Regions from separate parts of the Homo sapiens genome. Here regions 2, 3 and 4 are each linked to region 1. The links come from fine-mapping of genetic effects on gene expression. A gene starts in region 1. Each other region holds a variant in brackets. All regions are shown on one strand. Distances are from middle to middle. Region 1 holds the start of ATP6V1E1 (ATPase H+ transporting V1 subunit E1). Region 2 overlaps ATP6V1E1 (ATPase H+ transporting V1 subunit E1). Region 3 holds the start of SLC25A18 (solute carrier family 25 member 18). Region 4 overlaps SLC25A18 (solute carrier family 25 member 18).

Region 1 (7,741 bases):
CAAAAGGGGTCCTGGCCAGGCGCGGTAGCTCATGCCTGTAATCCCAGCACTTTGGGAGGCCGAGGTGGGCAGATTACGAGGTCAGGAGATCAAGACCATCCTGGCTAATACAGTGAAACCCCATCTCTAATAAAAAATAGAAAAAATTAGCCAGGCGTGGTGGCGGGCGCCTGTAAGTCCCAGCTTCTCGGGAGGCTGGGGCAGGAGAATGGCATGAACCCAGGAGGTGGAGCTTGCAGTGAGCGGAGACCATGCCACTGCACTCCAGCCTGGGCAACAGAGCGAGACTTCGTCTCAAAAAAAAAAAAAAAAAAAAAGAAAGAAAAGAAAAAGCGGTCTTCCATTTGACACAATTTTGTTTATTTATTTAATATTTTTAGAGACAGGGTCTTTTGCTCTCTCACCCAGGATGGAGCACAGTGGCATGATCATAGCTCACTGCAGCCTCGACCCCTTGGGCTCAAATGATTCTCCCACATCAGCCTCCCTAAGTAGCTAGGAGCACATGTGTGCCCCACCACACCTGGCAATTTTTTTTTTTTTTTGAGACAGTCTCGCTCTGTTGCCCAGGCAGCAATGGTGTGATCTCGCCTCACCATAACCTCCACCTCCCGGGTTCAAGAAATTCTCCTGCCTCAGCCTCCTAGTAGTTGGGATTACAGGCATATGCCAGCACGCCCCACTAATTTTGTATTTTTAGTAGAGACAGGGTTTTGCCACGTTGGCCAGGCTGGTCTGGAACTCCTGACCGCAGGTGATATGCCCACCTCGGCCTTCCAAAGTGCTGGGATTACAGGCATGAGCAACCATGCCCAGACAGCCTGGCTTATTTTTTAAGAAAAAATTTTTTAGAGATAAGGTCTATGTTGCCCAGGCTGGTCTTGAACTCCTGGGATCAAGCGATCCTCCCACCTCAGCCTCCCAAAGTGCTGGGGGCTACAGGTGTGAGCCACCACACCTGGCGTGTATTTGTGTTTATTAATATTAAAATTTTTTGAGATGGAGTCTCACTCTGTCACCCAGGCTGGAGTGCAGTGGCACAATCTTGGCTCACTGCAACCTCCGCCTGCCGGGTTCAAGCGATTCTCCTGCCTCTGCCTCCTGAGTAGCTGGGACTACAGGCGCACCCCACTAGGCCCAGACAATCTTTTTTTTTTTATTTTTTTGAGAGGGAGTCTCGCTCTGCCGCCCAGGGTCGCTCGGCCTCCCGGGTTCACGCCATTCTCCTGCCTCAGCCTCCCGAGTAGCTGGGACTACAGGCGCCCGCCACCATGCCCGGCTAATTTTTTGTATTTTTAATAGAGATGGGGTTTCACCATGCTGGCCAGGCTCGTCTCGAACTCCTGACCTCAGGTGATCCGCCCTCCTCAGCCTCCCAAAGTGCTGGTATTACAGACGTGAGCCACCATGCCCGGCCCCAGCCTGTATCTCACAAATGTTAACACACACATTAGTGGGAGACCAATCATTACAATCCATTATGATAGAGGGGACTTCCCCAAAATGAAGATTAACAGTACATACAGGCCTGGCGCGTTGGCTCATGCCTGTAATCCCAGCACTTTGGGAGGCCCAGGTGGGAAGATCACCTGAGGTCAGGAGTTCAAGACCAGCCAGGCCAATATGGTGAGACCCTGCCTCTACTAAAAAAAATACAAAAATTAGCCGGGCTTGGGGCGCGAGTCTGTAATCCCAGCTTCTAGGGAGGCTGAGGCAGGAGAATCACTTGAACCCGGGGCGGAGGTTGCAGTGAGCCGAGATCGCGCCCTTGCACTCCAGCCTGGGCGACAGAGTGAGACTCCGTCTCAAAAAAAAAAAAAAGAAAAAAAGAAAAAAACACAGTTCATAAAGTGAACGACCTTGTCAAAACACTGGTTGGAAGCAGGTCTCTTCCCTCCGCACTGTTTCCTATCATATAGCCTTAAGCATTTCCCTCAGGGTTAAAAAAAAAAAAAGTGACAAGGCTGGTTTGTTTTTTTTTTTTCTTTTTCCAGAGGGAGTCTCGCCCTGTCGCCCATGCTGGAGTGCAAAGGCGCGATCTCGGCTAACTGCAACCTCCGCCTCCGGGTTCAGCTTCCCGAGTAGCTGGGATTACAGGCGCGCGCCACCACGTCCGGCTAATTTTCTATTTTTAGTAGAGACCGGGGTTTCACCATTTTGGCCAGGCTAGTCTCGGACTCCTGACCTCAGGTGATCCGGCCGCCTCGGCCTCCCAAAATACTGGGATTACAGGCGTGAGCCACTGCCCCTGGCCACAAGGCTGTTTTCAATCCTTGCACAGATCTCTGTCCGACTAGGCACAGTGAATACCCTTGGAAAACAGGGAATGCTGAGGTGGGAGGCAAAGAGCCAGGGCGTTCAAGAAGGCAGCGCGCAGGCAAGCGGGCAGTGCCCAAGACCCGAGCAAAAGTCACATGAGCTGCGGGGCAAATCTCCGTCCTCAGGCCGACCTCTTGGATCTGGTGACTTGGAGCAAGGGACCTTCCTGCGGCATCTGGGCGGCTCAAGGCCCGCGGCCTTCCCTAGGCGGGCTCCAGCCCACTCCCCGGGACTGCCGCCGCGGCTTCGTAAGACCCAACCAAGCCCCTCACCTGCTTTTGCACGTCAGCATCGCTGAGAGCCATGGCGAGAGCAATGCTAGGCCGGTGAACAGTAGGCTCGAGTTTAGGTTTGAAAGGTGAGGTGAGAGAAATCGGCAAAGGGAACCCCTGCGCAGATCTCGGGTTCCTTTACTTTATAACCGCGGGTTCCGGTTCCTGCCAGGTGACTGCACAGTTCATCCTCATGACCCTTCTCAGCCAATGGGAAGAGAGCGACGCCCAGGAAGTCCCGCCCTGTCCCGGCCTGTGGGCGCGTCCTCGGGTCCTTCTACGTCGCTGACTCGTGACCTGACCGGTATTTTTTTCCTAAACTGGGATCTTGGGTAGGAGGAAGAAAAGATAAGGAGTTCCTCTATCTGAAATTAGTCGGGCTGTTTTGAGGAGTACTGGTTAGGTATATTGGAGAATGTGCCTTTATTGGAATTTTTCGCATAATTACACAGGGTTATGGGCTTAGGGGTACATGATTGTTGGCCGGGCGTGGTGGCTCACGCCTGCAATCCGGAGACTTTGGGAGACCAAGGCGGGTGTATCGCTTGACCTCAAGTTCGAGACCAGGCTGGACAACATAGAGGAACCCCGTCTCTACCAAAAGAAAAAAAAAAGGGGGATACATGATTTCTGACTATTCATGTCAACCTTGATTACCTGAATAAAGTGTAGGGTTTGTAGGTTTCTCCACTCTGAAGTTACCTTTTTTAACCCCCTTTCCATACTGTAGTCTTAGGAAGGAAGCCACTATACAAAGCCCACACCTAGGGAGTGGGAAGCTATGCTCAACTTCCTTATTAGGGTGGAGCAGCTACATAATTTATTTGGAACTTTTCTGAGATAGCCTATATATTTTTCAAAAGCCTTCCCAGGTCCCATTTAGAGGAATATTAGGACAGAAATCCCCCCAGGCTCATTTGTTTTTATTTGGATTTACCTCAAGCCCGTTTTTTTCCCCAAAATCCCAAAGGCAAAAACTTTTGAAAATTCCTTTATCTTTAGGATAGACTGACTCCTAATAGTAGAATAAGAGGTCAAATGGTACACCCACTTTTTTCTTTTTACTGTGCTATGGTTACCCACCATTTTTATTAGCTTTTTATCTTGAAGAAATTTGAGATATAGTAACTTGTAAGAATACTGCATTGACCTCCCTTCACCTAGATTCAACAATTGTTAACATTTTGCTACATGTACATTAACACTTTATTTTCATACACACACACACACACACACACACACACACTTCCTATTTTAGTGTGTCATAAGAACGAGGATGTAGCAAATTCAGGAAATTTAGTTTACTAGGCTGAACATTAATTTCCTTTGTCCCGGGCCAGGCGCGGTGTCTCACGCCTGTAATCCCACCACTTTGGGAGGCTGAGGTGGGCAGATCACCTGAGGTCGGGATTTCGAGACCAGCCTGACCAACATGGAGAAACCCCAGTCTCTACTAAAAATACAAAATTAACAGGCGTGGTGGTGTGTGCCTGTAATCCCAGCCACTGGAGAGGCTGAGGCAGGAGAATTGCTTCAACCCAGGAGCAGAGGTTGCGGTGAGCCAAGATCGTGCCACTGCACTCCAGCCTGGGCAATAAGAGTGAGACTCCGTCTCAAAAAAACAAAAAAAAAAAAAACAAATTCCTTTGTCCCATCAATCCATCAATGTACTTTATAACCCTTTCTTTTTTTTTTGAGACAGAGTCTCACTCTGTCGCCCAGGCTGCAGTGCAACGGCATGGTGTCAGCTCACTACAACCTCTGCCTCCCGGGATCAAGTGATTCTCCTCCCTCAGCCTCCCAAGCAGCTGGGATTACAGGTGCCTGCCACCATGCATGGCTAATTTTTGTATTTTTAGTAGAGATGAGGTTTCACTGTGTTGGCCAGGCTGGTCTTGAACTGCTGACCTCGTGATCCACCTGCCTCGGCCTCCGAGAGTGCTGGGATTACAGGTGTGAGCCACTGCACCCGGCCTTCTTTTTCTTTTCTTTTTTTTTTTTTTTTTGAGATGGAGTCTCGCTCTGTTGCCCAGGCTAGAGTGCAGTGGCAGAATCTCGGCTCACCACAACCTCCGCCTCCCGGGTTCAATTGATTCTCCTGCCTCAGCCTCCCCAGTAGCTGAGATTACAGGCATCTGCCACCACGCCCAGCTAATTTTTGCATTTTTAGTAGAGATGGGGTTTCAACACATTGGCCAGGGTGGTCTTGAACTCCCGACCTCAGGTGATCTGCCTGCCTCCACCTCCCAAAGTGCTGGGATTACAGACGTGAGCCACCGCGCCCAGCCATAACCTTTTTTTAATAACCTTACTTTTTAACCTTTTATAACCTTCTTATAACCTTACTTTATAACCTTTATAACCTGGATTGGATCCAGGGTCACTTACTGCATTAGTGATCATGTCTTTTTAGTCTCCTTTAATATGGAAGAGTTTCCTCAGACTTATCTTTCTTGATAGTGACATTTTGAAGAATATAGGCCAGTTGTAGAAAATCACTCAATTTTTTTTTTTTTTGAGACAGAAGAGTGTCGCTCATGCTGGAGTGCAGTGGTGCAAACTCGGCTCACTGCAACCTCCACCTCCTGGGTTCAAGAGATTTTCCTGCCTCAGCCTCTCCAGTAGCTGGGATTACAAGCGCCCGCCACCACGCCCCGCTAATTTTTTCTTTTTGGTAGAAACAGGGTTTTGCCACATTGGCCAGGCTGTTCTTGGAACTCCTGAGCTCAGATGATCTGCCTGCCTTGGCATCCCAAAGTGCTGGGATGACAGGTGTGAGCCACCACGCCCAGCCTCAATTGGGTTTTGACAGTTTCCTCATAATTAGATTCAGGTTACGCATTATAGCAGGAGTACTACATGTGTGATATTGTGTCCTCTTTGCAACACATCAGAAAGTACATGATGTCCGTTTGTCCCTTTTTTTCAATTTTATTTTTAAAATTGAGACAGAGTCCTACAGTGTTTGTCAGGCTAGTCTCGAACTCCTGGGCTCAGGGGATCCTCCCACCTCAGCTCTTTGTCCTTTTAGTAGGAATGGTACGTGTGTGTATGTATGTGTGTGTGTGTATATATATATATATATATATATATATATATATATATTTTTTTTTTTTTTTTTTTTTTTTTTTTTTTTGAGATGGAGTTTCGCTATTGTTGCCCAGGCTGGAGTGCAGTGGCGCAGTCTCAGCTCACTGCAACTTCCACCTCCCGGGTTCAAGTGATTCTTCTGCCTCAGCCTCCTGTGTAGCTGGGACTATAGGCGCGTGCCACCACACTCAGCTAATTTTTGTATTTTTAGTAGAGATGGGGTTTCACCATATTGGCCAGGCTGATCTCGAACTCCTGACCTCGTGATCTGCCCGCCTTGGCATCCCAAAGTCTTGGGATTACAGGCGTGAGCCACGGCGCCTGGCCGGTACACATATTTTGAAGGCTGTTAATACATGCTGCCATTTTTTCCCCATTTGTACTAGTGTACAATGTTCCTTGTACTGTATGACAGATTGGTATACATATTTGGTATACATATTTGAGAATACTGATAATGCTGGATAAAGGAAAGATTTACCCACAGGACAATAAACGTTGCCATTTATTAATATATTTATTAATACATGCTGCCATTTTTTCCATTTGTACTAGTGCACAGTGTTCCTTGTAGGACAGATTGGTGTACATATTGGTATATATATTTGAGAGTACTGATAATGCTGGATAAAGGAAGGATTTAGTCACAGAACAATAACACAGGGCAAGAGAAACTGATGCAATTGACCTTAACTTGATCACTATTGAGCTAAACTAGATTGGATTATTTGTCTAATTTTGTTCATCTTTTGCATTAATAGCCTCATTCTTCATTGTCCTAAAAAACAGATTGCAGGAGTATGGAATATGCTAGAGGACTATTCTACCCTCTAGCATCCCTAGGTCAGGTTGAGGTGGAATTAACACATTTTGATTACAATCTCTCCTGTATTTTTACAGTGTTCTGCAAATGACAGGATTTGGGGAGTAGAAACAGCAGTCTAATTCTACATGTCAAATTGTTTCTGAAATTAATATCTGGAATGGATGTAGCACTGTCTAGATCAACCGTGCTTTTGTTTTTTGGAAAACAGTGTGATAATCTTTATGATTCTTCTTCTTTTTTTTTTTTTTTTTTGGAGATGGGAGTCTTGCTCTGTCACCAGGCTGGAGTGCAGTGGTGCAATCTTGGCTCACTGCAACCTCTGCCTCCCGGGTTCAAGCAATTCTCCTGCCTCAGCCTCCCGAGTAGCTGAGACTACAGGCATGTGCCACCATGCCCAGCTAATTTTTGTATTTTTAGTAGAGACAAGGTTTCACCATGTTGGCCAGGTTGGTCTCGAACTCCTGGCCTCAGGTGATCCACCCGCCTCAGCCTCCCAGAGTGCTAGGATTACAGGCATGAGCCACTGCGCCTGACCACGATTTACTTATTTTTATTTTGAGACATTAGAAAATACAAAAAAGTACAAAGAATAATTTATTCCCATACCATGCACCACTACCCAAAATTAACAATTAACATTTGTCACATTTACTTCAAGACTTCACTTGAAAAACAAATCGTAGGTATAGTTACTATCCCCTTTTGCAGCACCCACTTCTCCCCCATGTTAGTTTCTCTTTAAAACTCAATTTTCTTCAGTTTTGCTGATTCACCAAGGAACAGGCCAGGTCCTGTCTGAAAAGAATGTAAGCTTTACAGAGATAACCTCTGAAGGGAAAAAGTTGTTATGAATACATGCAAAGATGAGCCAGTTGGTAGTTTTCCAAATGTAATTTTCTCCTACATTCTTAGGCCTTGTGGAGACACTTTAAAACATATTTTCAGACAAGTTTCAAAAAACTCCCTCCTAGATAAGCCTATTTGTGGCTTCACCAAAGTCACTGGCCTAGATTCCTGTCAGGTTAGTCAGAAAGGGACGGTTCATGTGCTCTCACCTACTCCCAGGCAGGTTTACTAGATACTGAATCAGCAGGATAAATAAGCTAACTCTGGAGTTTGCTCAGGAGGACAAAGCGCGAAAGACTAGAAGTAAATGTAAATCATCTGTCTTTAAATGTTGAGCAAATAATTTGAAAAGGAAAAAACAAAGTGTAGCCAAAAAATAGTAACTCTA
Region 2 (5,000 bases), 32 kb before region 1:
CAACAACAAAAAAAGAGGCTGGGTGCGGTGGCTCACGCCTGTAATCCCAGCTCTTTGAGAGGCCGAGGTGGGCAGATCACGACATCAGGAGATTGAGACAATCCTGGCTAACAAGGTGAAACCCCGTCTCTACTAAAAATACAAAAAAAATTAGCGAGGCATGGTGGCGGGTGCCTGTAGTCCCAGCTAATCGGGAGGCTAAGGCAGGAGAATGGTGTGAACCTGGGAGGTGGAGCTTGCAGTGAGCCGAGGTCGTGCCACTGCACTCCAGCCTGGGTGAGAGTGAGACTCTGTCTCAAAAAATAAATAAATAAATAAATAAGATAAAAAATGCTATGAGGTTAGTGCTAATACGTCAATTTACAGATAAGGGAATCAGGGCTCACTACTATGGTTTGAGTCTGTTCCCTCAGAAACTAATGGTGAAATTTGATTCTCAATGTGGCAGTGTTGGGAGGTGGAGCATAGTAGGAGGTGTTCAGGGCTCAAGGGCAGATCCCGAGGCAATGAACTGTGGCGAGGGCCTGGATTCTAGCTCCGGCAGGACTCGACTGTGAGCAGAGGGTGGGCTGGTATGATAGGGAGTCTGGTTCCCTAGGCTCTCTGGCCTCCTCTCTCGCCATGTGGTCTCTATGCACACACCCACTCCCCTTCCACCTTCTGCCATGAGTGGAAGCAGCCTGAGGCCCTCACCAGATGCAGCTGTCCAATCTTGAACTTTCCAGCCATGAGAATCATGAACCAAATAAACCTCTTTTCTCCATGAATTACCCAGCCTCGGGTATTCTGTTATAGCAACACTAAATGGACGACACCACTCAATGAAACTGAATAAACGAGTCCAAGATTACCCAGGTAGTAAGTGGCAGAATCAGGAATCTAACCCAACTCTGACAGCATATCTTATGAGTTTATATACTTTTTCCATTTACAGAGCATTTTCACATGTACTATCTCATCTTTTTTTCTTCACTGCATGAAACAAAAAAGCAAAAAGCAATGATCCTATTTTACATATGATGAATTCAGTCTCCAGGTCCCATAGTAGCAAAAGGCCAAGATAGGACTCAAATCTAGGTCTTACATTCCTAAGTGTGATAATCAGCTAACTTCAAAATGTGTCCAAGGCACCAGGCATGGTGGCTCACGCCTGTAATCCCAGCACTTTGGGAGGCCGAGCGGGCAGATCACGAGGTCAGGAGATCGAGACCATCCTGGCTAACACAGTGAAACCCCATCTCTACTAAAAATACAAAAAAATTAGCTGGGCGTGGTGGCAGGCGCCTGTAGTCCCAGCTACTCAGGAGGCTAAGGCAGGAAAATCGCTTGAACCTGGGAGGCAGAGGTTGCAGTGAGCCAAGATCATGCCACTGTACTCCAGCCTGGGTGACAGAGTGAGACTGCCTGTCTTAAAAAAAAAAAAAAAGTGTCCAAGGTACTTTCTTCAATGTTAGTCAGTAGTGTGGCTAGGTGGCCTCAGACAGGCCAGTGAAATCGAGAAAATGACACTGGCTCTCCCCTTGTCAGGAGTTTCTACTGCCTACCCCAGCTACACAAAGCTTGTTAGGAACACTGATCCCAGAAATGTTCTGTCATTTCCTCACAGTCATAAAAATACCACTCATACTTGCAATTCTATCTCTAAGGAACCTAACTACCAGGCATACACAATTCTTGTTTTGATAACTATTACTTAGAAGAAGGGAGTATCTACCTCAGCATCCAATACAGAGATCTGGTCCTAGCTTTCATTCTGGGGGCCACCTCCCCGCAGAAGGAAAGCAGTGACCATAAACCAGACTTTTTTTTTTCTGAGATGCAGTCTTGCTCTGTCGCCATACTGGAGTCCAGTGAGTGGCGTGTTCTTGGCTCGCTACAACCTCCACCTCCTGGATTCAAGCAATTCTCCTGCCTCAGCCTCCTGGGTAGCTGGGACTACAGGCGTGCGCCACCACGCTCAGCTAATTTTTGTATTTTTAGTAGAGACAGGACTGGACTATGAGCAGAGGGTGGACTGGTATGATAGGGAGTCTAGCTCCCTAGGCCATGTTGGTAAGGATGGTCTCGATCTCTTGACCTTGTGATCCACCTGCCTCAGCCTCCCAAAGTGTTGGGATTACAGGCGTGAGCCACCGCACCTGGCCAAACTAGACTTTTAGAGTATATTTAGCCAGCCAACAAGGGAGAGCAAGAGAGCACTGCGAGAACAACAGGAACGGCTGCAAGTAGAATACACCACAGCTCTAGCCTTGTGTCTAAGAGTGCGTTTAAATGGTGAAAATACCATTTAAAAAAGGCCTGGTATAAAGGCCACTCTCCCAGGGAGAGAAGGTAGCTGTTAGCAGCAGGAATACTCCTTACAT[G/A]TCTTCAGGCAGGTAGGACTCCTGGTCAATTTGGACATCAACATCGTTTTTGGTGGCAATTTTGTACATAGGAATTGCCTTCTGCACTGCAGCCTGGAAGTATAGAACACAATGAGAGGTGTCACTAGGAACTATGAAGCAAGTATCCAAAAACTCAACAGACTATACAAGCAAGGATACCTCCATTTATCCCAGGTAAAAGAACAGAGGCACCGCTGGTGGGAATGTAAAACGGCACGGCCACTGAGGAGAAATGACAGTCTGCACACAGGAGGGAAGAGATGCGAATGGTTTCTGTCAAGATTTAACAGGGCTTGGCAGGTGATTAAACACACCAGAGGCAGTTATTACATTTGAAACATGGATCAGCAGGAGGAAGATACATTATTCCCCCAGCTGAGAGTGTTAGAAGCTGGGGGTAGGTAAGGAGAGAAGGGAGGGAAGAGAAGTTTGGCTGCTGGCATGAGCTTCAACTGGCAGTTGCAGATGAGGGGGAGACAGCAGGCACCAGAAACAGCAGTGCCATGCCATACCCATAAGGATGGTTCTTATCAAAGTAACAGTATAATAGGTCCTCAAAAAATGAAGTACACAATTACCACATGATCCAGCAATTCTACTTCTGGGTATACAGACAAACGGATAGAAAGCAGGACAGATATCCGTATACCCATGTTTGCAGCAGCATTATTCACAACAGCCAAAAGGTGGGAGTAACCCAAGTGTCCAGTGACAGATGAACGGATAAACACAACGTGGGGCATCCATACCGTGGAATATTATTCAGCCTTACAAAGGAAGGCCATTCTGACCCACCCTACAGGGACCTTGAAGGCATTATGCTAAGTGAAATGAAACAGTCACAAAAAGACAAATACTGAATGTTTCCACTTATATGAGGTGAATGGGGGAGAAGAGAAGAGAAGAGAAATAATGGAGAGTTAGTGTTTAATGAGCACAAAGTTTCAGTACGGGAAAATGGAAAAGTTCTGAAGATGGATGGTGGTGATGGCTGCACAATATTGTAAATGTACTTAATGGCACAATGTATGGTTAAAATGGTATGTGTATTTTACCACCATTAAAAAAAAAAAAGAAAGGCAGGGCACGGTGGCTCGCACCTGTAATCCCAACACTTTGGGAGGCTGAGACAGGCAGGTCACAAGGTCAGGAGTTTGAGACCAGCCTGGCCAACACGGTGAAACCCTGTCTCTACTAAAGATACAAAAAATTAGCCAGGCATGGTGGTGCATGCCTGTAATCCCAGCTACTTGGGAGGCTGAGGCAGGAGAATTGCTTGAACCCGGGGGGGCAGAGGTTGCAGTGAGCCGAGATCGCACCATTGCACTCCAGCCTGGGAAATGAGAGCGAAACTCCATCTCAAAAAAAAAAAAAAAAAGGAAACTAGATCCCTGGAATAAAAGATAGAAGTGGGTTTTTACGGCCAGGCGCGGTGGCTCATGCCTGTAATCCCAGCACTTTGGGAGGACGAGGCGGGTGGATCACCTGAGGTCAGGAGTTCGAGACCAGCCTGGCCAACATGGTGAAACCCTCCCTCTACTAAAAATACAAAAATTAGTCAGGCATGGTGGCACACGCTTGTAATTCCAGCTAGTCTACTCGGGAGGCTGAGGCAGGAGAATCGCTTGAACCCGGCAGGCAGAGGTTACAGGTGAGTGGAGATCCCGCCATTGCACTCCATCCTGGACAACAGAGTGAGACTCCACCAAAAAAAAAAGAAAAGGAAGGAAGGAAGGAAAAGAAAGAGAGAGGGGAAGGAAGAAAGGGAGGGGGGAGGGAGGGAGGGAAAAAATTATCCTAAGTTCTTTACCTTTACCAGAGGGAAATCTTGTTTCCTGCAACGAACAATCATTCGGGGCTCCAGCAACTGGTACAAACCCTGGAAGAAATAGTAGATACAGTCAGTAGAAAATGCAAACTATAAAATAAAGAAACAGGTCGGGCACAGTGGCTCAGGTCTGTAATCCTAACACTTTGGAAGGCCAAGGCGGGCGGATTGCCTGAGCTCAGAAGTTCGAGACCAGCCTAGGCAACAAGGCAAAACCCCATCTCTACTAAAAATACAAAAAATTAGCCTGGAATGATGGTATGTGCCTATAATCCCAGATTACTCAGGAGGCTGAGGCAAGAGAATGGCTTGAACCCAGGAGACGGAGGTTGAAGTAAACAGAGATGATGTCAATGCACTCCTGCCTGGCTGACAGAGTGAGACTCTGTCTCCAAAAATAAAAATAAAATAAAATAAAGCAACAGTAAAATAAGATGCTTCTACAGTTCTTTCATTTAGGTTGGAAAAATTTCCCCTGGTAAGTTCCACTAACAGATGGCATATATCACATAAGACCATGGAAAGATCTATCTATCCCAAACCAGATAAATGAACCCAAACCTTTGGTGATAGAAACAAAATTCATGCAGACATCTTATATTACATCAACCAAGCTGAGGACAAATATTATTGTAATTAACATAAGTAAAATAAGGATTCACAGCTCAGCAGTAAACAATTAAAACATATACAGTGTTTGGTCTGAATCCTAAATCTAAAGCAAGTATTTTAGTGGCAAAATCAAATTAAGGGAATTTAAAGCTAGCCATTGCAAGCAAATTTGACCC
Region 3 (7,906 bases), 69 kb before region 1:
TTAGTAGAGGCGGGGTTTCACCATGTTGGCCAGGCTGGTCTCAAACTCCTGACCTCAGGTGATCCACCCGCCTTGGCCTCCCAACATGCTGGGATTACAGGCGTGAGCCAACACACCGGACCTTCATTTTTTAAATTAAGCTGGGACACAAGTTTTGCCTCCAGGCTGGATGTTGATCCTGCTCTGTGCTAGACAGATGTGCGGAGGGACTGTTCCGGGCTCGGCTTGACCTTTTCCTACCTAGTTTCTCCCTCTTGTCCTGCACAAGAGGACTAACTGAACTCTAACGTCAGAACGGCTGACGAGCAGTTGATTGTCCTTGCTTGTGTTGTTGACAGGGGTGGGTGGGGTGGGAGCAGGGGTATGGATATTGCATAAGTTATTGAAATGCTGACCCCCGTTCAGGAAACCATGCAGCCCCTTCCCTTCCCTTCCCTTCCCTTCCTTTCCCTTCCCTAGCCAGGGCTCAGGTACCTCACTCTCCTGCCTTGTGCGTAGCTCCTGGGGCCCCGGTCAGTCCCCAGCAGCCTTGGCACACAGTGTCTGGAGCCTCTGCTCCTGCTGCAAAAGCAGAAACCATGTGAACCTTCTGGCCAGTACTGGAAAGGGGAATGCTATTTATTTTTATATTGTGTATATTTTGTCGTGGTCTGCTGATTCCCTGTTTCACTGAGAGCGACACTTACCTCAATAGTTAGTTCAATATTGTGTGTTGGATAATTTTTTAAAAGAACTTTTTAAAAAGCTTTTTGATCCTTGGAGGTCTGTAGATTTATTTCCATATGAACTGGTTATTTTGTATAAAGTACATGCTTAAAATAGCAAGGCTCCTCTGTGTGTGTGGTGTGTCTGTCCATGTGTCATTTCCATATCAGGGCAAACCCAGACTTCCATCAGGACGAAGGCGTGAACTAGGCCACAAGGCCACCAGCTGAAATGCCACCCCTCGTCCATTCTCATGCATCCAGAATCCACGGAGGCGGGGCACGGGTCCTGTGCATGAGACAGAGGAATATGGTTCCAGAGAACTTCAAAACAGTCATGTACTGACTGGCAGTTCTAAACCATGTCAGGGATAAAACGCTCCTCACAGCCGATCCTTGCGAAGCTGGCCCGGCCGTCAGCATCTCACTGGTAAAGGCGTCCGCCTTCAGAAGGTTACTACACCTGAGGTGCACGACTTCTCTCCTTGCAGGCTTTAGGGTGCCTGGGATGGGAAAGGAGTATAACAGTGGGGCAGCGGGGCAGCTCCAGCCTGGAGCCCGCTGTGCACACACATGGCCAGAAGTGGGAGCTCCAGCCTAAGCAAGCGGGCAATCTTATACCTGCCAAGGTCATTTATGTTTTATTTCCAGTTACTGGGAGAACAGTTTGAAAGTAGCTTCATTCAGCCAGGCGCGGTGGTTCACGTCTGTAATCCCAGCACTTTGGGAGGCTGAGGCGGGCGGATCACGAGGTCAGGAGATCGAGACCATCCTGGCTAACACGGTGAAACCCCGTCTCTACTAAAAATACAAAAAATTAGCCGCGCGTGGCGGCACACACCTGTAGCCCCAGCTACTCGGGAGGCTGAGGCGGGAGAATGGCGTGAACCCGGGAGGCGGAGCTTGCAGTGAGCCGAGATCGCACCACTGCATTCCAGCCTGGGTGACAGAGTGAGACTGTGTCCCAAAAAAAGAAAGTAGCTACATTCTTAGAAATCAGCTACAGTCTTAAGACACCAGAACTCCTGTTTTGTCCTTAAATGCAGACTGTCCCAGTTTAATGATCATTCAACTTAGGAGTTTTTGAAAATGAGACACATTCTGCAGAAACTGTACTTGAAGTCCTCGTGCAACAATTCTCTTTCACCTTCTGTACGGTATTCAATAAACTCCATGACATATTCAACACTGTGTGATAAAGGAGGCTCAGCCAGGTGTGCTGGCTCACACCTGTAATCCCAGCACTCTGGGAGGCCAAGGCAAGTAGATCATATGAGCTCAGGAGTTCGAGACCAGCCTGGCCAACATGGCAAAAGCCTGCCTCTACTAAAAACACAAAAATTAGCGGGGCGTGGTGGCGGGTGCCTGTAATCCTGGCTACTTGGGAGGCTGAGGCAGGACAATCGCTGGAAGCTGGGATGCGGAGGTTGCAGTGAGCCAAGATCGCGCCACTGCATTCCAGCCTGAGCGACAGGAAGACTCCGTCTCAAAAATAAAAATAAAAAAGGAGGCTCAACTGTGGGCTAGCATAAGTTTGCTGAGCATGCTTGAGGCAGGCTAAGCTGTGATATTTGGTGGGTTAGGTGGATTCAGTGCATTTCCAGCTGACAATATTTTCAACTCATGATGGGTTTATCCGGAGGTGACCCCACTGGAAGCTGAGGAGCATCTGTAATTGGCTGTGGAAGTAATCCTCATTCCATAAAAATTTCACCACAATTAGTACCCGTTTCCAAACCCATGCTTGGGGCTGTCCCTTTCTAGGCAGTGATCTGTTCACTCTCCTTTTAACCTCCAGTTGTTTGGTGTCTGATTGTCCCCACTGATACTCTGTTGTTACTGGCTAACAAATTTTTGAGCCTTTTATCCTGGTATTATTTTAAAACTGTTCAGTTATTCTCCCATGAAAAGTGTTTCTATGATAAAACATTTTATGCCAACCGTACTTTCTTGTTTAGTAGTTGCATTTCAGTGTAATTTCTGAAACAAAACAAAAATCAACTTTAAAGTGAAAAATCAGGCTGGGCACGGTGGCTCACTTGATGTCAGGAGTTTGAGATCAGCCTGGCCAGCATGGTGAAACCGTCTCTACCAAAAATACAAAAATTAGCCGGGCATGGTGGCACACGCTTGTGATCTCAGCTACTTAGGAAGCTGAAGCAGGAGAATTGCTTAAACCCTGCAGGCAGAGGTTGCAGTGAGCAGAGATCGCACCACTGCACTCCAGCCTGGGCAAGAGTGTGAGATCCTGTCTTAAAAAATCACTAGTAAACCCCAGATCAGACATGATGCTACTCAAATTGTGCATCTCGATGGATTCTCCCAGTGGGTGGGGGGAGCACCACTCTGGCCTGGCTTCCTTCACTGTTCTGTCAGCTTTCCTAGAGCCCAGTCCAGCTGCATCAGTGGCTGGGATGGCGTTAGCAAACCCACTCCCTGTGCATATCAGCAGCACACCCTTAAAATGCATGCAAACTTTGATTCCTAACTTTCAGATTTCCTCCTACCGTGACATGAATTCTCACCAAACAAAGGCCAGAATGTTTTTTGACATATTTAGCTATTGATAGGCTTTAGCTCTCCCTCTCCCTCTCCCTCTCCCTCTCCTCACGGTCTCCCTCTCTTTCCACGGTCTCCCTCTCATGCGGAGCCGAAGCTGGACTGTACTGCTGCCATCTCGGCTCACTGCAACCTCCCTGCCTGATTCTCCTGCCTCAGCCTGCCGAGTGCCTGCGATTGCAGGCACGCGCCGCCACGCCTGACTGGTTTTGGTGGAGACGGGGTTTCGCTGTGTTGGCCGGGCTGGTCTCCAGCTCCTAACCGCGAGTGATCC[G/A]CCAGCCTCGGCCTCCCGAAGTGCCGGGATTGCAGACGGAGTCTCGTTCACTCAGTGCTCAATGGTGCCCAGGCTGGAGTGCAGTGGCGTGATCTCGGCTCGCTACAACCTCCACCTCCCAGCCGCTTGCCTTGGCCTCCCAAAGTGCTGAGATTGCAGCCTCTGCCCGGCTGCCACCCCGTCTGGGAAGTGAGGAGCGTCTCTGCCTGGCCGCCCATCGTCTGGGATGTGAGGAGCCCCTCTGCCTGGCTGCCCAGTCTGGAAAGTGAGGAGCGTCTCCGCCCGGCCGCCATCCCATCTAGGAAGTGAGGAGCGTCTCTGCCCGGCCGCCCATCGTCTGAGATGTGGGGAGCGCCTCTGCCCCGCCGCCCCGTCTGGGATGTGAGGAGCGCCTCTGCCCGGCCGCGACCCCGTCTGGGAGGTGAGGAGCGTCTCTGCCCAGCCGGCCCGTCTGAGAAGTGAGGAGACCCTCTGCCTGGCAACCACCCCGTCTGAGAAGTGAGGAGCCCCTCCGCCCGGCAGCCACCCCGTCCGGGAGGGAGGTGGGGGGTCAGCCCCCCGCCCGGCCAGCCACCCCGTCCGGGAGGTGAGGGGCGCCTCTGCCCGGCCGCCCCTACTGGGAAGTGAGGAGCCCCTCTGCCCGGCCACCACCCCGTCTGGGAGGTGTGCCCAACAGCTCATTGAGAACGGGCCATGATGACAGTGGCAGTTTTGTGGAATAGAAAGGCGGGAAAGGTGGGGAAAAGATTGAGAAATCGGATGGTTGCCGTGTCTGTGTAGAAAGAAGTAGACATGGGAGACTTTTCATTTTGTTCTGCACTAAGAAAAATTCTTCTGCCTTGGGATCCTGTTGATCGGTGACCTTACCCCCAACCCTGTGCTCTCTGAAACATGTGCTGTGTCCACTCAGGGTTAAATGGATTAAGGGCGGTGCAAGATGTGCTTTGTTAAACAGACGCTTGAAGGCAGCATGCTCGTTAAGTGTCATCACCACTCCCTAATCTCAAGTACCCAGGGACACAAACACTGCGGAAGGCCGCAGGGTCCTCTGCCTAGGAAAACCAGAGACCTTTGTTCACTTGTTTATCTGCTGACCTTCCCTCCACTATTGTCCCATGACCCTGCCAAATCCCCCTCTGTGAGAAACACCCAAGAATTATCAATAAAAAAATAAATTAAAAAAAAAAAAAGAATAACAAGAAACATCTATTCTCTGTTTTCCATACCCTAAGCTTGGTTCTAAGCACCTTATGTTCATTGACTTATTAAATTCTCACAACATGAAAAAAAAAAAAAAAGATAGGCTTTAATTTTTCTTGAGACAGGGTTTCACTCTGTTGCCCAGGCTAGGTACAGTGGCATGGTCTCAGCTCACTGCAGCCTCAATCTCCCGGGCTCAAGCAGTCCTCTCACCACAGCCTCCCAAGCAGCTGGGACTACAGGGGCACCCCACCACACCCAGCTAATTTTTTGTCTCACGATGTTGCCCAGGCTGGTCTAGAACTGAGCTCAAGTGATCTGTCTGCCTCAGCCTCCCGAAGTGCTAGGAATTACAGGCGTGAGCCACTGTGCCCGGCCTTTATTTTTTATAAGGAACTTAGCCATTTAGAGTGCTTCCAGATTTATCTTCTTCGGGCCAAAACCAGCAACAAATATATGTACCAAAAGTTAGCATCTTCCACTGGTTAACTGTTTCAAAACAGTGCAGTAGGCAGTGTAAATGTGGCTCTATTTTTGGAACTGTTACTGTTTAACGCTTGTTAAGCATCCTGGGTAAATATATCTTACACAGATAATCCTACACAGTGAGCTTCTTAAAATAAGAGCATAAAAGCTACTCGGGCAAGATTTAGGGAGACAGGAAGCTATACATTGTTACTGTAGATTAGTCTCAAAAGTTCTGATCAACTTTCTATTTTGACATTTGGAGACATCCATAGGTGCTTCTCTTGTTAAAGATTAATGTCTCTTGTCTCTAAACCAATTCGTGTTACTGGAAGGAAAGGCAACGCAAGTTTTATAAATCAGCCCCTTTGTGGGCTCCATTTTGCTATACTCTATGTTCTCTGAGAGTGCTACCAACGGAATTGAGAAAATAACCATCCAGACGGGCTATTTGGGGGCTGATCTTTACCCTGGAATCTTCCTGGAAGGTGAACGGCCTATGTCATGCAGTTGTTATGCAAGAGGTATCATGGGACCTTTCCTTCTGGGCGCTCATGGAGCCGCGGCAGAGCCCTGGGTGACCCAGCAGCAGCTGCCTGCTGTGTGGCTGCCTTCACTGTCCTCCCCCACAACTGCTGTTGATTTCTCTGCATTGACCCTGCAGATGTTTCCCTGGCCTCGTGGTGTTCCTTTGGACTTTTAAGGGACCTCTGTGCATCTATTTTAGTCCCCTTTCTGCTAGCAATGCTCACTCCCCTAGTTTCCTTAAGCAGTTTTATAAAAAACCTTCAGTGAAAAATACTAGCCAAGAAGGCGAAGGCATCTGGAAAATCCCCAGATTTGGCTATTGTGTGCTGCAATGCCAGCCCCCTTCTACAGCCATGACATGCATATCAATGCAGGTGCCCTTGAGACTCCTGCAGGTTCGAGAAAGCATGACATGCTCCCAGAATCCTGGATTTGGACTTCATTCTGGACAGCATATGACAAGGACGAGGACCCCTATTCTAGCCAGTTAAAGCTGGACAGAATTTTTAAAAGCAATGAAGCCAGTTCCTTGGATATATCCACGGGCTTTGCTTTGAGAAGGAACTGAGTAGGCAGTGAGAAGAGTCGAGTGAAGCCTGGCCCGTGAGTGCCTCAACAACTGAGATGAACGTCGACTCGCTTGCAGGCAAGTTGTCAGTAAGTATTTATTAAATACCCACCGTGAGCCTTGTACTTTGCCTAGTTACTAAGAAACCAAAAGGGGGAAAAATAGCCTCATCTGCTCAGAGTTCATAATAAACCTGTATTGTGAATACAGAATACAGAAAAACTGGACTCTAGTGAGGTGCTAGAAAGAGTGTACTGCTTAGCTGAGATAGCAGATGAAGGAAAAATATTTTTGGTTCCTCCCTGCCATGCAATCGTACCGGGAGGGTGGAGTGTTGGTGTTCTCAGCCCATTTAATTTGGATGGAGCTGCGGGCTCATCAGTTTGGGGACTGGCTTCATCGCTTGTTCTGTCCAGCAGTCGCGTCTTCTCGGACTCCTTGTTCCAGCTTGAATTCCTCTTTTGCCCTGGCTCCACTCTAAGACGAAGACTGTGTAATTCAGAAAATGCAGCGCAAGTAATTATGTCCAGTGTGATGCTAAACATTTCCCAAAGGCAGCGTAGATCTGCAGAAACTGCAGCTTGGGAGAAGTGATGGTGTTCCTCTCCCCACCACCTCAGCCTGCCCTGATCATTCTCACTCACATGATCTATTGTGATGTTCTCACAATGTAGCCTGGCCATCATCTGGGAACTTGCTGGAAATGCAGATTTTGGCATCCCGCCTAAGACCTTAAACTGAAGAAGGGCCTAGCTCTCTCTTGTAACTAGCAACAGATGCAACCTGCATGGTTCTGATGCAAACTGACCTGGAAGAATGGCCCTGGCATTTACATTTTGGTCCTTAGATGCAGGTAATCTGAGCTGAACATCTTCAAACCTGAGGCATAGCATAGAAAAAAGAATACAAACAGTTTATATAAAGTAAAAAAAATTTTTAGAAAGGACTTAAGTTGGCTGGGGCGCGGTGGCTCACACCTGTAATCCCAGCACTTTGGGAGGCCAAGGCGGGCGGATCACGAGGTCAAGAGATGGAGACCATCCTGGCTAACGTGAAACCCCATCTATACTAAAAATACAAAAAATTAGCCAGGCGTGGTAGCAGGTGTGGTAGTCCCAGCTACTCGGGAGGCTGAGGCAGGAAACTCACTTGAACCTGGGAGATGGACGTTGTAGTGAGCCAAGATTGAGCCAGTGCACTCCAGCCTGGGGGACAGAGCAAGACTCTGTCTCCAAAAAAAAAAAATCAGGCCCAGGCAACATAATGAGGCCCCACCTCTACAAAAAAATAATTGTTTTAATTAGCCAGGTTGATGGTGTGCACCTGTGATCCCAGCTACTCAGGAGGGTGAGGTGGGTGGATCGCTTGAGCCCAGGAGCCCTCCCTCGGGATGCTCTTATTTCTGCCTGCAGCCTCATTTGTCACTCTGTGCAGACTCATTCTGTTTTTGTTTTGTTTTGTTTTGTTTTGTTTTTGAGACAGTCTTGCTCTGTCACCCAGGCTGGAGTACAGTGGCACAATCTCGGTTCACTGTAAACTCCGCCCCCCCGGGTTCACGCCATTCTCCTGCCTCAGCCTCCCGAGTAGCTGGGACTACAGGTGCCTGCC
Region 4 (7,504 bases), 39 kb before region 1:
TCCTTTCCCTTCCAGCCGTCCATCATCAGGGCTCGGCCTCAGCACCCTCCACCTCCAGGTCCTACACAACTGGTTCGGCTTCCACCCACAGGCGCCCCTCTGCCACCCTCATTGCCTGGGAGCTGCTCCGCACTCAGGGCCTGGCTGGGCTCTACAGGGGCCTGGGTGCCACTCTCCTCAGGTGAGCCTTTCTTCCGGTTCCCTAGGACAAGTGCACGGGGGAGGGCACGAGGGCCAGAGAGCTGGTTGTCCCTATCTGCCTCTGTGTCCTTCCCAGAATATCCAAACCCAGGTGAGCAAACGATTTCCATGCTTCCTGTTTTGTCTGGAACTGGCCAGGGTGGCACAGAATGGGTACCTAGAAGACTAAAGTTTTAGGCCGCTTGCATAGTGATGACCAGGCCCACAGGAAGGCTGGGTGTTTTGTGGCCCAAAGGCACCTAAGAAAGCCCTGTCTACAGAGGACCGCAGAGTTCATAGTAATGAGTGGCCAGGCCCCTCATCTTCCCTTAGCCTGCCTGCCCCTGTACAGAACGCATTTCCCGCCTCGGACTTGCCTCTGGCAGTCAAGAGGCTGCAGGTGCTGCAGGGCAGAGGAAGGAGCTGGGACGGCGGAACAGATGGCAACAGCTCTTTTGTCCCCTGCTGTCCCTCACCCACGCTCACGGGGCACAAAAGAAGGGATGAGTCCCCGTGGCTCCTCTCACTGTAAGCCCCACAGCTCACAGCAAAGCTCATTGTCTCACCTTGGGTGGCAGCCCCAGGGCAGCTCGGAGCTCAGTGTTTCTCCTTCCTCTTCTGCAGAGACATTCCTTTCTCCATCATCTACTTCCCACTGTTTGCCAACCTTAACAACCTGGGGTTCAACGAGCTCGCCGGTAAGGCGTCCTTTGCACATTCCTTCGTGTCAGGCTGTGTGGCAGGTTCCATAGCTGCGGTCGCAGTGACGCCTCTAGATGGTAAGGAGTTGGGAGACGTGTCCTTTCTATGGGATAAACAGTAATTTTGCACTTATAGATAAAACAGCCTGACCCTGGAAGCCATACTGGGTTGCAATCTGGCTGCTGGCGGAGGCTCACTAGAGGCCCTCATGGAGAAAGTGGGTCCCAAGAGACCTTCCTTCTGTTTCTCATCCCTGACACATCCCTCGCCTTCAAGATGCTGATTGCTTTAGCTTTTCATCCCCTCAGAAGAGTTGTGAGCCCCAGCTATAAATTATTGCTGATGTGTTAAAATTTGGGGCTGGCTGGGTGTGGTGGCTCACGCTTGCAATCCCAGCACTTTGGGAGCCCAGCACTTTTGGATCACCTGAGGTCAGGAGTTTCAGACCATCCTGGCCAACATGGTGAAACCCCGTCTCTACTAAAAATGCAAAAAAAATTAGCAGAGTGTGGTGGCGGATGCCTGTAGTCCCAGCTACTTGGGAGGCTGAGGTAGGAGAATCATTTGAACCCAGGAGGTGGAGGTTGCAGTGAGCCAAGACCACACCACTGCACTCCAGCCTGGGCGACAGCACAAGACTTCATCTCAAAAAGTAAATAAATACATAAAATTTGCGGCTAATGGTGGGAGCTAAACCTGGCATGAGAAGACAATGCTTCCCTCCGTGTTAGGGCTGCCTCCAGCTCCCTAAACTTGCGGGTAGACTTCCTATACCAACAGTAACCTGGCCAGGTGCGGCGGCTCACGCCTGTAATCCCGAAACTTTGGGAGACCGAGACAGGAGCCCAGGAATTTGAGACCAGCCTGGGCAACAAAGTGAGACCCTGTCTCTAAAAAAAAAAAATGAAAACATTAGCTGGGTGTGGTGGTGCGTGCCTGTAGTCCCAGCTACTCGGGAGGCTGAGGTGGCAAGATCACTTGAGCCCAGATGGTTGAGGCTGCAGTGAGCTGATTGTGCCACTGCACTCCAGCCTGGGCAACAGAGCGAGACCCTGTCTCAACAAAACCAAACAAAGCCACAGTAACATGACTCATTTATTTTATAGCTGAGGCCCAAAGAAGAAGACCTCCACTTACAGATCACACAATGGCAGAACTGGCCTCATGACCGTTTTTTTTTTTCTTTTTTTGTTTTTGAGATGGAGTCTTGCTCTGTTGCCCAGGCTGGAGTGCAGTGGTACAATCTCGGCTCACTGCAAGCTCCACCTCCCTGGTTCAAGCGATTCTCCTGCCCCAGCCTCATGAGTAGCTGGGACTACAGGAACGCGCCACGCCCGGCTCATTTTTGTATTTTTAGTAGAGATGGGGTTTCACTATGTTGGCCAGGCTGGTCTCAAACTCCTGACCTTGTGATCTGCCCACCTCAGCCTCCCAAAGTGCTGGGATTACAGGCGTGAGCCACTGCGCCCGGCCTATGAGTCAGTTTTATATGTGGTGGCTCTACAGGAGGGCCCAGCCCCTTAGTGTTGAGGGGAGGACACCGAAAGTAAGCTGTTCACTACTTACTTTAACTTTTACTTGATTTAGTTCTGAAAACTCGAATCCAAACCCTCAAGAAAGGCCTGGGCGAGGACATGTACAGTGGGATCACCGACTGTGCCAGGTGAGAGCCAGTGTCCCCTCAAATGGTGGCTGGGACAGGTTCCTCTGCGTGGGTGTCTGCCTAGACCAGATTTAGAGACCAACTTGAATTGCTGGGCTCTGGGTTTCTTTGAAGTCTGTCTTTCCCTCACCTCTCAAAGAAAACAGAATGTACTGGGAGCCTTTTTCTTCTTCCTGGCATCCCTACAGCATCTCTCACCAAAGATTCTAGCCACATCAAGCCTGTTTCCAAGGCCTTGACCCAACTGCATAAGTAACCAACCTGCATGCACCTAGCGGGCGAGGCACAGCTCCCACACCGTTGGCCTCTTGCTCTTGTTGTGGAAGGCACTATTCTAAAATGAGAGGTGCACAAATGGAGAGGCTGCCACTGAGGGCTGCTTGCAGAATGCCCCTGCCCATCAGCTCACTGGCTCTTCTTTCTCCCCAGGAAACTCTGGATTCAGGAGGGACCATCTGCCTTCATGAAAGGCGCTGGCTGCCGGGCACTGGTCATAGCACCTCTCTTTGGGATTGCTCAAGGGGTCTATTTTATTGGGATTGGAGAGCGCATCTTAAAGTGTTTTGACTAGACAGAGCTGGAGGTCAAGTCCCTGCGCTTGCCGCCCTCTCTCTAGCTGTTTCACTTAGCCTAGAGGGGGCAAGGGCAGGTGGGGCCACTCTGGCCTGCCTGGTCCTCTGCGTTGTAGTGCTACCTCAATCTCGGGAGAAACAGCCCTATATTCTAACAAGTTGAGCACAGCCTTCTTCCCCTTCGTGTCTACACTCGTTTTCCTTTGTGGGCACAGCTACCAGGGGCTTTTGGAAGCCCCTAACCACCTACTTTTCAACAAAAATGGTACTTTCGTTGTATTAATTGCAGGACCTTAACAGGTAGTCACAATAGAAGGGTTGTTTCTGTATTTTAACATTTCTATTTCACAGTCAAACTCGGCATTCTTCAGTCAGCTTGAGGATTTAGCATTGTTAATCTTGGACTCCATAACTTATGAGTCCTAGCACTGATTTTGAGGAAAAGGAGGATCAGAAGTTCAAGGGACCGTGAAAGCCCTCAGAGTCAGCACCTAGTTTGAGACCAAGCACCCTTTCGAATCCCTGGATGGCTGAGGGGGCTGAGGCCGGCTCTGACTGGGCAGCTCAGCCCCTCCCCCAGAGCCCAGGGTCTTGCACACCCCTCCCTGTAACCAAGGAACACTCTGAAATAAAGGTGAATGGCTAAAATCTCATCTGTTCATCAGTGGGTACAGCAGATAGGCTGCAGTGAATGCTATCACCATCTACTTTTCTACGTCCATTTCAAAACCAAACATTAAAAAGGGCATAGAAGCAGACCCCCGTCACTCTTCAAACTGTTACTTGTGGGGGTGGAGGAACACAGCCATAGGGAAATATCTGCTTGTTAGTGACACTGGGTTTTAAGCCTTGATTCTATCCCTTCATAAGTGAATCGTCTTGAGGAGCTGAGTTTGCTGTGAGAGCCCTCCTCACGCACCTCGATTCCTCCCCCAAAGGCTGCTACAGGAGAGATAATGTCACAGCAGCAGGGCCAAGTCCTAAGAAAATCAGCACCTGCTGCAGGAGCTGGTGTTTACAATAGTCCCATCTACTGTGAAACCTGGGCTAACAAGGAAGAGGATGGTGCTAACATGGTCAGCCCTGGGGGCCTCACTCTCTGTTATGAGAACTGCATTTGAGTATGGGCCCTGGAGACAGACCTCAGTTCAAGTCCCAGCTCCACCATGTACTAGCTGCAAGGCCCTGGGCAGCTCTTAGTCGTCACCTACGGAAAAATAAAACATGGGACAGGGAAGGAAGAACAGGGCCTCTGTGAAAGGATCTGGTTCCAGCACACAGTGACCTGCTCCAAAATAACTCGGTTTTTTGGGTCTGGCGCCGTGGCTTACGCCTGTAATCCCAGCACTTTGGGAGGCCGAGGCAGGCGGATCCGAGGTCAGGAGATCGAGACCATCCTGGCTAACACGGTGAAACCCCGTCTCTACCAAAAAATACAAAAAATTAGCCAGGCGTGGTGGCGGGCGCCTGTAGTCCCGGCTACTCCGGAAGCTGAGGCAGGAGAATGGCACGAACCCGGGAGGCGGAGCTTGCAGTGAGCCGAGATGGCACCACTGCACCCCAGCCTGGGCAACAGAGCGAGACTCCGTCTCAAAAAAAAAAGAAAAAGAAAAAACAAACAACTTGGTTTTTCTCATTCGGGCAACACTAATAAAACTATTTCCTCAATAAAGTTGTGCACGTCACGCTGAAGAGCCATGTGGGGTGTGTGGAAGATTGCAAGGGTGGAAAGAATGCTCCTGGTGATGGGCTGGGAACAACGGGCAACAGCCCAGGGGACCCCCAGAGGGTTAACGGGTCCAGGTGCTGACAGCTGTCACCATCAAGTGCCACGGGGATTGGGAAAATACTTCTTTTCTAGGTGCCTCAGTAAGAATTTGACTCTGTCAAAACCTAAATTTGTAGTGCCTTACACTAGAAATCACATTAAATCCGCATAACTCTTTTAATAAATAAAGCATATTCATGGCTTAGATTTTAAATCACATTTACAGATGAGGGAAAACTTCTAGGCCTAAACAGGTAACAGTAAAGCGACTACTGCTGGAAGGAGTGGTGTGCCACATGCGCCTTAAGCCTCAAGAGTGGGGACTGCAGGGCCAAACACCAAATACATCACCTTTAGGCCAGACGGAGAGTGGAGACCCAGGAAGCCCATGCAACCACCATCTGCCCCCTCCCCTAGTGCTGCAGAACCGGCTGGACACTGTCACACTTTCAGAAGAACTGGAGGTGGGTCCTGATCATATTACATGAAGC[T/C]TTCCACCATTGTGAACAATTAGGCAAGGCATGAGTGACAGAGGGGCATCGCTGATAAATACAGAGCAATACTGGGGCAGTGAAGAGGAAGCTACAGAGACATTCGTGTTTCTTCAAATATCAGAAGCTTCCACATCACAGCAGGAGAGCTGACGACGAGCTCCACCTCCTGAAGGCTTAGTCCAAAAACTTCCTGTTGGCATTTGCACCAAACAAGGCTCCCCGGACTTCTGGCATCATCTGTGGAGAGAAAGTGTAATAAATACGCAATGTCAGCTGAAGAAGTTGTAGAGCGCTGCACATCTTTTTTTTTTTTTTTTTTTTGAGACGGAGTCTCGCTCTGTCGCCCAGGCTGGAGTGCAGTGGCGCATCTCCGCTCATTGCAAGCTCACGCCATTCTCCTGCCTCAGCCTCCCAAGTAGATGGGACTACAGGTGCTTGCCACCATGCCTGGCTAATTTTTTTGTATTTTTAGTAGAGACGGGGTTTCACCATGTTAGCCGGGATGGTCTCGATCTCCTGACCTCGTGATCCACCCGCCTCGGCCTCCCACAGTGCTGGGATTACAGGCGTGAGCCACCAAGCCTGGCCAGAGTGCTGCACATCTTAACCACAGGTGGAAAGCCATGAACCTCTATGTGGCTGGGAAGGACTCACAAAGCCACGCACATCAAAGCCACCCTCTCCTTCCCTGAAGCAAGTAACACATTCCTTGGTGAGAAACTTAACTCATCCCAAATCTGGGGTTCAGACTGCTTACAAAAGGGACACATTAAAAAAAAACAAAACAAAAAAAAACCTAAAGTCACTACTATCTCAGACTTAACTCATCATAATCATCTCACCACAATATGCTGGGTCACCTACACTCTTTCTTCAACAAACATTTACTGAGTGCCTACTATGGCCACAGCAGCTGCAAAGAACACTTCCAATGCCAGCTTAGGCTGGAAGCACTTGCTACAGCCACTGATGAATCCTTAGGAGAACTTAACCCTGGACTTCCAAGGCTCGGCTGTCCAACAGGGCAGTCCTAGCTACAGATGGTTATTGTGTGCTGAGAAACTGAATTTTTCGGTTTAATTAAATATCCGTAAGTGAGTAGTGGCTATGATACTGGATGGGACAGTGGCTACTAGGAAACAATGTTCTGAGGTTTAAGTTACCAGAATATGAAAAAATCAAGGTGAAAGTGCTTTAGTTATAAGACAAGTATCTGCATAAACAGTAAACTGCATATCTAGGTCAGGGAATAACTAGGTTGGCAGCCACAGCAATAGACTCCCACTAGAAGTCTAGAAGATGCCCAGCATTTTAGAACAAATGGAATTTTCCTGGCTTGTTTCCTAGAGTTCCTGTGTACAAATCTGGAAACATCTGAAAAGCCAGCAGCTTTATGATAATTCCTTTAAATAAGTATTTGTGTCTGAGCACGGTGGCTCACACCTGTAATCCCAGCACTTTGGGAGGCCAAGGCGGGTGGATCACCTGAGGTCAGGAATTTGATAACAGCCTGGCCAACATGGTGAAACCCCGTCTCTACTAAAAATACAAAATTAGCCGGGTGTGGTGGCAGGTGCCTGTAATCCCAGCTACTCGGGAGGCTGAAGCAGGAGAATCGCTTGAACCTGGGAGGTGGAAGTTGCAGTGAGCCAAGACTGCACTCCAGCCTGCGCAAAAAAGAGTGAAACTCCATCTCAAAAAAGCAAAACAAAACAAAAAAACACAAGTATTTGCTTTAGTTCCCATCACTCCTGTTAGAGAAAGAACTTGTCAGCACCTTACATGTAGTAAAATGTACATATTCGAATCCTAGGTCAACAAAACACTTGTTCTGACCCCAAATTCACCCTCATGTAAATGTTACCACCTCAGCAAATGCTACTACATGCCCAATTCTCATTCTTTTTGAGAAAATGTCCAAAACTGGAAAGACAGCAACAAATCCCAAATACCAGTGAATGGACACGTGTTCTCTGTCCCACTTCAAAGTAACAGCAGACCAACTACCAAGAAGTACCCCCACACTCACCTGCTGGGCTATGAGATCCAGCCGGCTTTCCAGGGTGTTGGAAACCTTTATTTTACGATCTCCATTATAGATCTCAACTCCACCAGCTCTGCAAAA

What was found. PIP is the estimated chance that this variant, and not a neighbour inherited with it, causes the effect.
Region 2: its variant is fine-mapped to the expression of ATP6V1E1 in whole blood (TOPMed, PIP above 0.99).
Region 3: its variant is fine-mapped to the expression of ATP6V1E1 in whole blood (TOPMed, PIP above 0.99).
Region 4: its variant is fine-mapped to the expression of ATP6V1E1 in whole blood (INTERVAL, PIP 0.92).

The regions. Positions count from the first base shown.
Region 1 is chr22:17,626,012-17,633,752 of GRCh38, forward strand. ATP6V1E1 (ATPase H+ transporting V1 subunit E1) reads right to left here and starts at 2,738. Exons shown (of 9, transcript NM_001696.4): 1 at 2,592-2,738. The coding sequence starts at 2,624. It also overlaps a transcript of BCL2L13 not described here. RefSeq lists enhancers at 2,433-2,582, 2,663-2,752, 2,694-2,863.
Region 2 is chr22:17,595,833-17,600,832 of GRCh38, forward strand. ATP6V1E1 (ATPase H+ transporting V1 subunit E1) reads right to left here. Exons shown (of 9, transcript NM_001696.4): 6 at 4,195-4,263; 7 at 2,362-2,456. Among named protein-coding and RNA genes, the nearest start is that of ATP6V1E1, 30 kb to the right of the region's middle. The variant G/A (reference allele first, on the strand shown) is at 2,364.
Region 3 is chr22:17,557,327-17,565,232 of GRCh38, forward strand. It overlaps SLC25A18 (solute carrier family 25 member 18), which reads left to right and starts at 6,172. Exons shown (of 11, transcript NM_031481.3): 1 at 6,172-6,387. LOC105372850 (a long non-coding RNA gene) reads right to left here. Exons shown (of 3, transcript XR_001755420.2): 2 at 6,943-7,177; 3 at 6,371-6,787. It overlaps CECR2 (CECR2 histone acetyl-lysine reader), which reads left to right. Exons shown (of 19, transcript NM_001290047.2): 19 at 1-825. RefSeq lists a silencer at 5,943-6,237. The variant G/A (reference allele first, on the strand shown) is at 3,538.
Region 4 is chr22:17,587,121-17,594,624 of GRCh38, forward strand. SLC25A18 (solute carrier family 25 member 18) reads left to right here. Exons shown (of 11, transcript NM_031481.3): 8 at 16-181; 9 at 805-959; 10 at 2,470-2,545; 11 at 2,975-3,875. The coding sequence ends at 3,116. ATP6V1E1 (ATPase H+ transporting V1 subunit E1) reads right to left here. Exons shown (of 9, transcript NM_001696.4): 8 at 7,409-7,496; 9 at 5,016-5,616. The coding sequence ends at 5,554. LOC101929372 (a long non-coding RNA gene) reads right to left here and starts at 2,072. Exons shown (of 4, transcript NR_171783.1): 1 at 747-2,072. The variant T/C (reference allele first, on the strand shown) is at 5,377.